Linked DNA regions of Homo sapiens: region 2 is linked to region 1. Evidence: fine-mapped expression QTL. Tissue or cell type: blood mononuclear cells. Region 1 holds a variant in brackets; the other region holds the start of a gene. All regions are shown on one strand. Distances are from middle to middle.

Region 1 (5,000 bases):
AAGAATAGTACAATAAAGGCCTGTGGTTAGGAAAGCATAGAAGAGGTATACATATATACACATATGTATTAATTATATTATATATAATTGTATATATTAATATAATATATAAAACTATATATAATACAATTATATATAGTATATACAATTGTATATATTAGTTAGTATATACAATTGTATATATTAGTTAGTATATACAATTGTATATATTAGTTAATATATACAACTATATATATGTCAATCACAAAACATGAAAATTTTTATAGCAATTCTGTACAAACAATTTCATTAATTTAGAATCAAGAAATTTTGTTGATTGTTTTAGACTATAGATAATTAATGGAGGAAATAAGACTATTTGAAAAGAAATAGTATTTGAGATTTAACCTGAAGTGATCATGATGTTTTAACTCAAAATTACTATGGTCCATGAATGAGATTATTTTCACTAACATTTTAAAACTAGGGAATTTAAAAATTATTAATATATTCCTATATTTATATACACTTGTAATAAATACGTCTTTGATTTAGGATAGTTTTAGACTTATAGAAAAGGTATGGAGTTTCATTACACCCTTTAGCCAATTTTTCCTACTGTTAACATATTACTATGGTACAGTTGTCACAGAAAAGGAACCAACCAATTGGCAAATTACTATTACATTCAATATATTTTTGAAAAGAAATGATTATGCTCAACATAGTCATAAGATGTCCAAGTGTATAAAAATTCAATTAGGATGCTGAATGCTTTTTGTTTTTTTTTTTACATTTTATTTTAGAGGCAGGGAGTTTATGTGCAGGTTTGTTATGCGGGCATATTGTGTAATACTGGGGTTTGGGCTTCCATTGAGCCCATCACCCAAATGGTGAACATAGTAGTGGGATTGTTAATACCCAGTAGTGGGTATTGCTGGGTCGAATGGTAATTCTATTTTCAGAACTCTAAAAATGAGAGAAATCTCCATACTGCTTTCCATAGGGGTTGAACTAATTTACATTCCCACCAACAGTCTGTAAGTACTGAATGCTTTTTGTATACTGAATTGCTCATCCCTAACAGACATTTTCTTTCTACACATCACAGACAGTTTTATTCAATATTTCACTGGAAGTATATACAATGTTATAATAATACAATTTGGTTGGTAAGCAATCTTGGTTGATGGTAATTGAGGTACTCATGAAAAAAGTACAATACTAAGAACAATGCTATTGTAGCTTGATTATAGTCATTCTCACAATCAAAATGTTTACTCTTGGCAGGATGCAGTGGCTCATGCCTGTAATCTAGCACTTTGGGAGACCGACGTGGGCAGATCACTGGAGGCCAGGAGTTCAAGACCAGCCTGGCCAACATGGCAAAACCCCGTGTCTACTAAAAATACAAAAATTGCTGGGTGTAGTGGCATGTGCCTGTAATCCCAGCTACTCAGGTGCTAGAGGCATAAGAATTGCTTAAACCCAAGAGTGGGAGGTTGCAGTGAGCCAAGATCATGCCACTGCAGTCCAGCCTGGGCAACAGAGCAAGAATCAGTCCAGAAAAAAAAAAAAAAAAAAAGTTTATTCTTTATTTAGTCCAAAGATTTTAATTATTTAGAGTGTTTCTTGACATTAAATTTTAACTCCAAAATGTACAAAAGAATCATGTGACTTAGACCATAGATTTATTTTTCCTTTTATGTTTCCCACGAGTCTACCAACTTCAGACCTCTGAGACTAAAGATCAAACAATTCTCACTTAGAATATGCTCCTTGAAAGGGCTGTATTTGCAACACGACCCCCAAATGCTGAAGGAGCCAAGAAATCAAAGAAGGAAGCAGGCAAATCCAGTTTATTGGTATAGGATGATTTATTAGGAGGAACTTACAGACACAAGCATGGTCTTGGGTGGCTGCAAAACAGATCTCTGCATGGCAAACCCCCAAACGCAGGGCTTATATCTTGGGGAAAAAGTATGCGTGTTCTGAAAGGAATGTGTGGGTGGCTACAGGAGTCACAGCCTATGATTTTTGTTATGGCGTCAAAGTTTGTTTTGAAGGAATCTTACAGTGAATAGGTATTCCTATATAAAGAGTAATACATTAGGCTGGGCACGGTAGTTCATGCATGTAATCCCAGCACTTTGGGAGACCGAAGCAGAAGGATCACTTGAGTCCAGGAGTTTGAGACCAGCCTGGGAAATATAGAAGGACCCCACCTCTATAAAAAAGAAATTTAAAAAATTAAAAATAAGAAAGAGTAATACACTAAATTGACATTTTGGAGGCATTCCCAGACTCAGGGTTAGTCAGAAGTTACATGGTGGATTAGCATTTAAAATAAAGACACTCTTGGCCAGGCGCGGTACCTCACGCTTGTAATCCCAGCACTTGGGTTGGAACAATGTGTACTCTGTTCTGTTTCTCATTGTGCATTACAAGGAACAGGGTAGAGAAGGGTAAAATACTATGTGCACTACTTTGCTAAATGAGCTTATAAAGCAGTACAAGTCAGTTAACGTGATGCCTCTAGCTTTATGCTTTGTGCTGTTTGCTTTGGCTATTCAGGCCCCTTTTATGGTTTCCTGTGAATTTTAGGATTTTGACATTGGGCCAGGTGCAGTGGCTCACGCCTATAATCCCAAAACTTTGAGAGGCCGAGGCAGGCGGATCACTTGAGGTCAGGAGTTCGA[G/A]ACCAGCCTGGCCAACATGGCGAAACCCTGTCTCTATTTAAAATACAAAAAAATTAGCCGGCATGGTGACGCACACCTGTAGTCCCAGCTACTCAGGAGGCTGAGGCAGGAGAATCGCTTGAACCTGGGAGGGAAAGGTTGCACTGCACTCCAGCCTGGGTGACAGAGTGAGACTTGTCTCAAAAAAAAAAAAAAAAAAAAAAAAGGAAAAAAAAGTATCTTTATTTTATAGAAAATGTAGTACGTATACGTCATAGAACACTATGCAGCCATAAAAAGGAACGAGATCATGTCCTTTGCAGGTACATGGATGGAGCCAGAAGCCATTATCTTCAGCAAACTAACGCAGAAACAGAAAATCAAATACTGCATGTTCTCACTTGTCAATGGAAGCTGAATGATGAGAACACATGGACACATGCCAAGGAACAAGACACACTGGAGCCTGATGGAGGGTGGGGGATGGGAGGAGGGATAGCATCAGGAAGAATGGCAAATGGATGCTGGGCTTACTATCTAGTTGATGGGATGATCTGTGCAGCTAATCACTACGGCACACATTTAACTATGTAACAAACCTGCACATCCTGCACATTTACCCCTGAACTTAAAAGTTGAGGGGAAAAAAAAGTCATCTGATGATGTGTATACACACTAAACTTTGGGAAACGTTGGTCTATATATTTTCATAATTACAACTACAGACTATAGTCACTTTAGAATAAAGTAGACATCCTAAAAAAAAAAAAAAAAAACAGTGTCTTTATTTTAAATGCTAATCTGCCATGTAACTTCTGGCTGACCCTGAATCTGGGAATACCTCCAAAATGTCTAGATGATATATTACTCTTTATATAAAAACATGTATTCACAATAAGTTTCCTTCAAAACAACCCTTGATACTGTTATAAAAAATCATAGGCTGTGATGCTATACCCACTTACACATTCCTTCCAGAGCACATGTACTTTTCCCTCAAGATATAAGCTCTGGGTCTGGGAGGTTGCAGTACTAAGACCTTCCCGTCTTATGACTGCCCCAAGACCATTCTTCTGTCTATAAGATACCCCAATAAATCACCCTATACCAACAAAGTGGATTTGTCTGCCTCCTTCTTTGGTTTCTCAGCTCCTTTAACATTTGGAGGTGACTTTACATATACTCCTCTTTTACAAAACAAAATGCCACTTGTTAAATAATTGAGTCACTCCTGTTTTAATTCCATGTAGGATACATATTTTTATAAATCCCTCTGTTTACACTGAGACCAACCTATCAACCAATAGATTAAGAATCCCTTATCCAAAAAGCTTAGGACCAGCAGTGTTTTGGACTTCAGATTTCTTCAGATTTTGGAATATTCGCATATACATAAGAAGGTATCTTGGGGACAGGATCCAAGTCTAAATAAGAAATTCATTTATGTTTCATATATACCTTATACATATAGCCTGAAGGTAATTTTGTACGATACTTTTAATAATTTTGTGCATGAAACTAAGTTTTGACTGCAACTTTATCATGTCACGTGAGGGCAAGTGCGGAATTTTCCACTTATGGTGTCATGATGGCACTTGAAAAGCTTAAGATTTTGAAGCATTTTGGATTTCAGATTACCGTATTAAGAATGCTCAACCTGTATTAGCATAAGAAAATTTATTTTTTTTTTATTTTATTGTTTCATTTTGTAGAGACAGGGTCTCCCTATGTTGCCCAGGCTAGTCTCAAATTCTTGGGCTCAAGTGATCTTCCCACTCAGCTTCCCAAAATGCTGGGATTATAAGCGTCAGCTATTGCACCCAGCCAGCAGAGGAAAAATTTTAAAACAAAACTAAAAAACTTGTAGCCACAGAGGTACTTGTGGTTTCAAACTGGTTCTACGTTAAGTAAAGTTCTGGAAGAGAGGACTACGACTAAGTCTTAGCTCCTCAAACCAAAAGCCTCACAGGAAAAAAGCACCATCTCTTGGATTTTTCTATAGACCAAACTAAATTCTGCAGGACTGGAGTTGAATATTGTTAACTGCCACCCATACTGCCTATCCAAGTTGTGATTTCTGAAACCAAGGCTAATTCTGTAAGTACAGTGACTTTCAAAGTTCCTTATAATTGGGGCCAGGCCCAGTGGCTCACGCCTGTAGTCCCAGCACTTTGGGAGGCCACGGCAGGTGGGTCACCTGATGTCAGGAGTTCAAGACCAGCCTGGCCAACATGGCGAAACCCCATCTCTACTAAAAATACAAAAATTAGCCAGGCATGGTGGTGTGTACCTGTAATCCCAGCTACTTGGGAGGCTGAGGCAGAAGAATCACTTGAACCCAGG
Region 2 (5,530 bases), 46 kb before region 1:
TCCAGTCTAACAATATTTCATGAGATAGTGCAAAAGCTGGACAAGGCAGAAAGGCAACTTTTCTGTAAACAGTATAAGGTTGACTTACAGGATATTAAATGCACTATTAAAAATTCTCAGGAAGAGGAAGAGACTGAAGATTTTTATCTGAGCACAGTACATTGTTTTTCTAAGCAACAGGGCCAAACAAGCTCAGAATTTATGGACTTACTTTTGTTGTTTTTTTTTTTTTTTGGACTTACTTTTTGAATGGAAGTCACAGTCACAACACTTGCCTATCAATTATTTATTTATTTATTTATTTATTTATTTATTTATTTATTTAGACAGAGTCTTGCTGTGTCGCCCAGGATGGAGTGCAGTGGTGTAATCTCGGCTCACTGCAACCTCCGCCTCCCAGGTTCAAACGATTCTTCCGCCTCAACCTCCCAAGTAGCTGGGAATTACAGGTTCCCGCCACCTGGCCCAGCTAGCTTTTGTATTTTTAATAGAGACGGGGTTTCATCAGGTTGGCCAGGCTGGTCTCGAACTCCTGACCTCAAGTGATCTGCCCGCCCCGGCCTCCCAAAATGCTGGGATTATAGGCATGAACCCCGTGCCCTGCCTTAATGATGTTGTGCCCTGCCTTAATGATGTTTTGAGACCACAATAAAACCTAACTGATTCATACCAATGGGGAACTGTCAAACTGCATCAGTGGAGAGAAGTGAATTACATCCTTTTTAACATAAACTCTTTTATTTCCAGTAGAATTCAAATAAAATAAAATCTTTATTTCCAAATGGTTCAATACTTGGACCTGTTTTTTAAGGGGTTGTTCAGAATCTGATCTACTACATTTGTTACAACCACATTTATTGTTTGTATGGAAACAGGAATGGCTAAAGTTTTGAGAAGTGTGTTCTTCCTAAAAACGTAAAACATTCAACATCCCCCAGCAACCATGCTCACACAGTTCGCTCCTTGGTAGAGCTTTTTCTTCCCAGATCATGTGGAAGAAAACCCCAGCTCAGGCTGCTCCCGGCTGCTCTGGTTCTGAGTGAGTGTGCAGAGGTTTGCAATATCAGCCCAGGTCAAGCCCTGAAAAATCTCTCCAGACTCCAGACTTGATCTGTCCAGACCCATCCGAGAATTAACAGGCTCCCCATCGTGCCCACAGAAGCAAGACTGTCATGGAAACACTGATTCAACCATAATAACTACTGACAGAAAAACCACACAAATGAACTAAACAATTCTTCCACCCAATCAGAGTCCAGGGGAGTCCATAGCCTCAGGATTAAAATAAGTAGGGCTGTTTTTATTATGTGGTCCAGCTCGTTTGAGCCTCTCCCATTGCCTTGTTTTCACAGCTCCCTTTTATGAGAAAGAAAGTGGGGGTGGGGGAGTTGGGAGGGAGACTAGAGCTATGCAGACGGGAATGCCAGGCTGGGAATACCAACAAACAGTGTGCTGCATGTCAGGCAAATTAAAACTTCTAGCCTGGAGGAGGCTGTAATCGTGTTTGCGGTTAGTCTGAAAACAAGCTACACTGAACTTCTATCTCCCAGGAAAACAGTCGAGTGTGGACTGAAGTCAAAAATGAGTATTTTTAGCAAGCATTCTCTCTCTTCCGTTTATTTTCTTCCTTCTTCTGTCTTTAGATATTAGAAACGCTAATTACATGAAGTATCATTATTATTCGAAGAAAGCACAGTTAGAAGGGTTAAAAATAAAAAGATGCCAAACCAACAGAAGCAGTACAATCCTAAGGAGGAATATATTTTAATTTTTCCCTGTACCCACGAGGTTCAGTTTGTGGGTCCAAGGGACCCAACCCCAATACCCAGTGAATGGTCATACCTGCAGGAAATATTTGGGCCAGTGTGGTGGCCCCCGCGGCTGTGGCCCCGTGGCCTGGCTCCTTGCCTTCCAGGGCAGGAGGGGACTCCGGGCTGCAGGCACAGGCTAAGGTCCGAGCTGAGGTACCAGGGAGCGGGGAGGGACAACAGCCCAAATAACAGCAGTCAGAAGGAGGAGGGAGTCCGGGAGCGGGAGAGAGACACAGAGACCCCGAGGGAGGCGTGAGGGGCGCAGAGCTGGTGGCCCGGGTCCGAGAGGTCGAGGGGCCGCGCGCGGGTGAGAACGAGCCCCGGCCCCCGCCCTCGGAACTGAGTCGATATTCCTTTTTTTGCTGTTTGAGTTTTCTCTTTAGAGTCGGACCCCGGTCCCAGCAGCAGTCTCAGAACAGAGGGGAGCCGAGGAGTCCCTGCCGGGAGGCCATCCCTCTGCGGGCCCCAGGGCGCCCCTGGGGGCGGCCAGGGCGGGCGCGGGGAGATGGGGAGGCGCCGAGCGGCCCTGGAGATGCCCGCGTCCCGGGGCGCCCGCAAACTTTCCCAGACACGGCGGGAGGCCCCACCCTGGAGAGGGGGGGTCCCAGGCCTCCCGTCTCTGTCCCCTGGGGCTGGTCACTCACCGGCAGCGCGGTTGGGGCTCCGATTCTGGCCGCAGCCAGCCACACCAGGAGGCGGAGGAAGAGGAGGGGGAGGAGGAGGGGGAGGAGGAGGGGGAGGAAGACCCGGGGCCGCCGAGTGGAGGGCGGGGAGGGGCGGCCGCGGCGCAGTGACTCCTCCCGCTCCCGCCCCCGCCCCCGCCCCTCCTCCCCTGCTGAGCCTCCCTTCTCTCTTCACGCCTTCTTTCTCACCCCGAATCCCCCAAAGTTTTTCTGGTGTCCGACGCTCCGTTCTCTTCCCTCCAGCGCATCTTCTGTCCCCGAGTCTCCAGCCTCCCAGAGGAGGGGAGAGCGCTCCCTCCTGCAAAAGTCGGGGGGCGGGGGCGGTAAGTCTATGAGTTACCTTTCGATGCCCTCTTGAAGCAGATAGCTTGGACCCGTGGAAGGTCTGAAGCCACCCAGCACCCCCAGACCTTGTCCTCACCTCTGGGTGGGGATGATGGAGGGCCTTTGCGGTCGTGCTTTCTAAGTTGCTTCATGGAGTTTTGTTTTGTTTTGTACCCCCCGCCTCACCCCACCCCCACCCCCCACCCCCCACCTTGTAATTAGGAGAACTAAAGAATTATATTTGAAAGGTAAAGATGAAGCCCCACCTTCCTGGGCGAATCAATCATAGCAGGAGGAAGGACACAAGATAGTTTAGTGAGGGCCAAGCTGTGGGGGTGGGGAGGAGGTAAACGCGTCCAGATGCCTCCTCTTTGCTGCCTCAAGAGTGCATGGAGAGGGAGAAGGGGCGTTGTCCTCCCAGGAGAGGCTGCAGGGTGTCTCGTAGTCCCTATTCCATCGCCTGCTGGCAAATGACTCCAGGCAAGTCACTTGGCATCTCAGCCTCTTCCTCAAGGGGGGCTGCCTCACTGGGAGCCAGTCAGAATGAAGGCACCCTCCCCACCCCTTTACCCTGGAGAGACACCAAAACCCAGGACGAGAGACTGAGCTGAGTTTGAACAGGCTCAGAGGGGAGAGAAGAGGGCATTTTAGGCCCCATGGCATGGTGCTTTGGAGGTTGGCAAGACTGGAAGGCTTAGGGTAAGTGGGCAATGTTTAGATGGGAAGGTGGAGCTGGGCATGAAGCAGAATACAGGAAATCTCTGAAAGTTTTCAAGCGAAGGTGTAGAGTAGGCACTCAGTGAATCCTTGAGGATTCAAAATGGCAAATAAGAAATATTGGTTTAACAGTCCTGTAGGATGGACCACCTAGGAAGAAAGGGGTTGCATCCAAAGAGAGGGGTTAGGAGGCCCCGGTGAGCATCTCAACTTGAAGTACTATGCTGGAAGGTGGAAAGGCAATGAATTATTTTTTAATCGTAAATTTCCTTGAGGAGCTGGGCTAACTCATAGGCAGTGCACCCAGGGTTGGTGAAAATCAGTGGACACTTCTTTGTATTTGCACAGCAGTGTAATTCTTTTTTAAATGTTCTGTCAGGTGTAGCCTTGTTTTTGACCTTGGAGTTCGCTGGTGAAATGGAAATATAGTCAGTACCCTATTTGACCTCCAGCCAGTGTTAAGAACCTGCCCTCGGGGCTTTGAGGAAGGAAACTGACGTTCCAGGAGGGCACTCCTCGAGCGCCTGAAATCACACAGCCAGGATCTATTTAGGATACTTTTATTCTCAGATAAAACTACTAATTGTGCTTATGCTTAATATATCCTAAACACAGAAAAAGGCACTGGTTTCTCCTCAGCTTCTCATTTCCTCCAGCTACCTTCCAGTAATGGTTAAGAGTTGAGGAAGGGCAACTTGCCTAGGGAAGAGGAGAGCCTAGGGAATAGGAAGTCAACTGACTGGCTGGTTAACTTGTCAGAGATTGTTCCATGGAAACAGACAGGTACTGGACCCCTAAGTCAGGCTTCTGGTAAGGAGCTGAGAGAAGTGGAGCAAGAAGGACACAGGAAGCAGGAGGAGGAGGAACGGAAGAAAAAGAGAAGGGGCAACTCTTTGTTGTCCTCATGCTTTGACCGCAGGCATTTTGGGGTCCCCAAATTGAACCCCCAAATTGAACCTTTTTGGTCCTGTATCCAGCCCACCTTTCACCAGTGGGTCTTCCACAGAGGCCAGCTCATCTCAGAAACTGCCACAGCTAACTGGAGACAGGACTCATGCAGGAAGCAACGACACATTTGACAAACAGTAATCATCATTGCATTTACAGAGTTCTGTATGCACCTTTTAAACTTTGTCATCTTTGAAAGAAGCAGTATGGCCTTTATTAGTGGGTAGCCACCTGGTGAAAGAAATCTCTTTTGGAAACTCTGACACTTCTGCAAAGCAAGGATGCCCATAACTTTCTAAAGACTAATACAGTTGGTTGAAAACCATTTTGTCTTTTGCAAAGGACAGGCCTTCCCCCTCTGTGTGATTCAGCATTGCCCCAAAGGTTGCCAGTTTCATGAATGAAGATTTATTTCTTGCAACTCCACCATGTATTTCCAAAGGATCCTTTCTGGTAGTGTCCCTTTGTATCAAAATCTGGTGGTAAACAGCTTAGCCTGGCCTCAATAGCTAAGCCACCACAGCCGTTCATCACAGCTGTGAGCTCATTTTACTCCAGTTACTGTTCTTTCTCTTGCTTTACAATAAGTAGACCCTCAAACTATGTCATTCTCCTTTTTATTAGCAGATTTCTCTTTCCTGGCAGTTTTTTCATGGAAATATTTAGAACTTCCCAACTGTTTAACAAGAGATCCCCAAAGTATCTGTAGATATGACCTAATAGATTAGCTTGGAATTCCTCAAAACTCATGTCAGCTGAAGCTGTCAGGATCATTTAATATACATCCAAGGGGAGGGACACACTGAGAACTAAATGCTTCGTAGGAACATTCCTCTCTAAAAACTTGGCAACAGCAAATCTCTGTTTACATTATAACACTCATTCAAACTACAGCTTTTTGGCTGGGCACTGTGGCTCATGCCTGTAATCCCAGCACTTTGGGAGACTGAGACAGGCAGATCACCTGAGGTCAGGAGTTCAAGACCAGCCTGGTCAACATGGTGAAACCCCATCTCTACTAAAAATATGAAAATTAGCAGGGCGTGG

Evidence for each region.
Region 2: STON1 starts here. The variant in region 1 is fine-mapped to the expression of STON1 in blood mononuclear cells (TOPMed, PIP 0.95).

What each region holds. Positions count from the first base shown.
Region 1 is chr2:48,481,079-48,486,078 of GRCh38, reverse strand. The region is part of intron 13 of PPP1R21 (protein phosphatase 1 regulatory subunit 21); the gene reads right to left. Among named protein-coding and RNA genes, the nearest start is that of PPP1R21, 43 kb to the right of the region's middle. The variant G/A (reference allele first, on the strand shown) is at 2,679.
Region 2 is chr2:48,527,142-48,532,671 of GRCh38, reverse strand. STON1 (stonin 1) reads right to left here and starts at 2,518. Exons shown (of 4, transcript NM_006873.4): 1 at 2,456-2,518. It overlaps STON1-GTF2A1L (STON1-GTF2A1L readthrough), which reads right to left and starts at 2,747. Exons shown (of 11, transcript NM_001198593.2): 1 at 2,684-2,747. RefSeq lists a silencer at 2,187-2,386 and an enhancer at 1,978-2,525.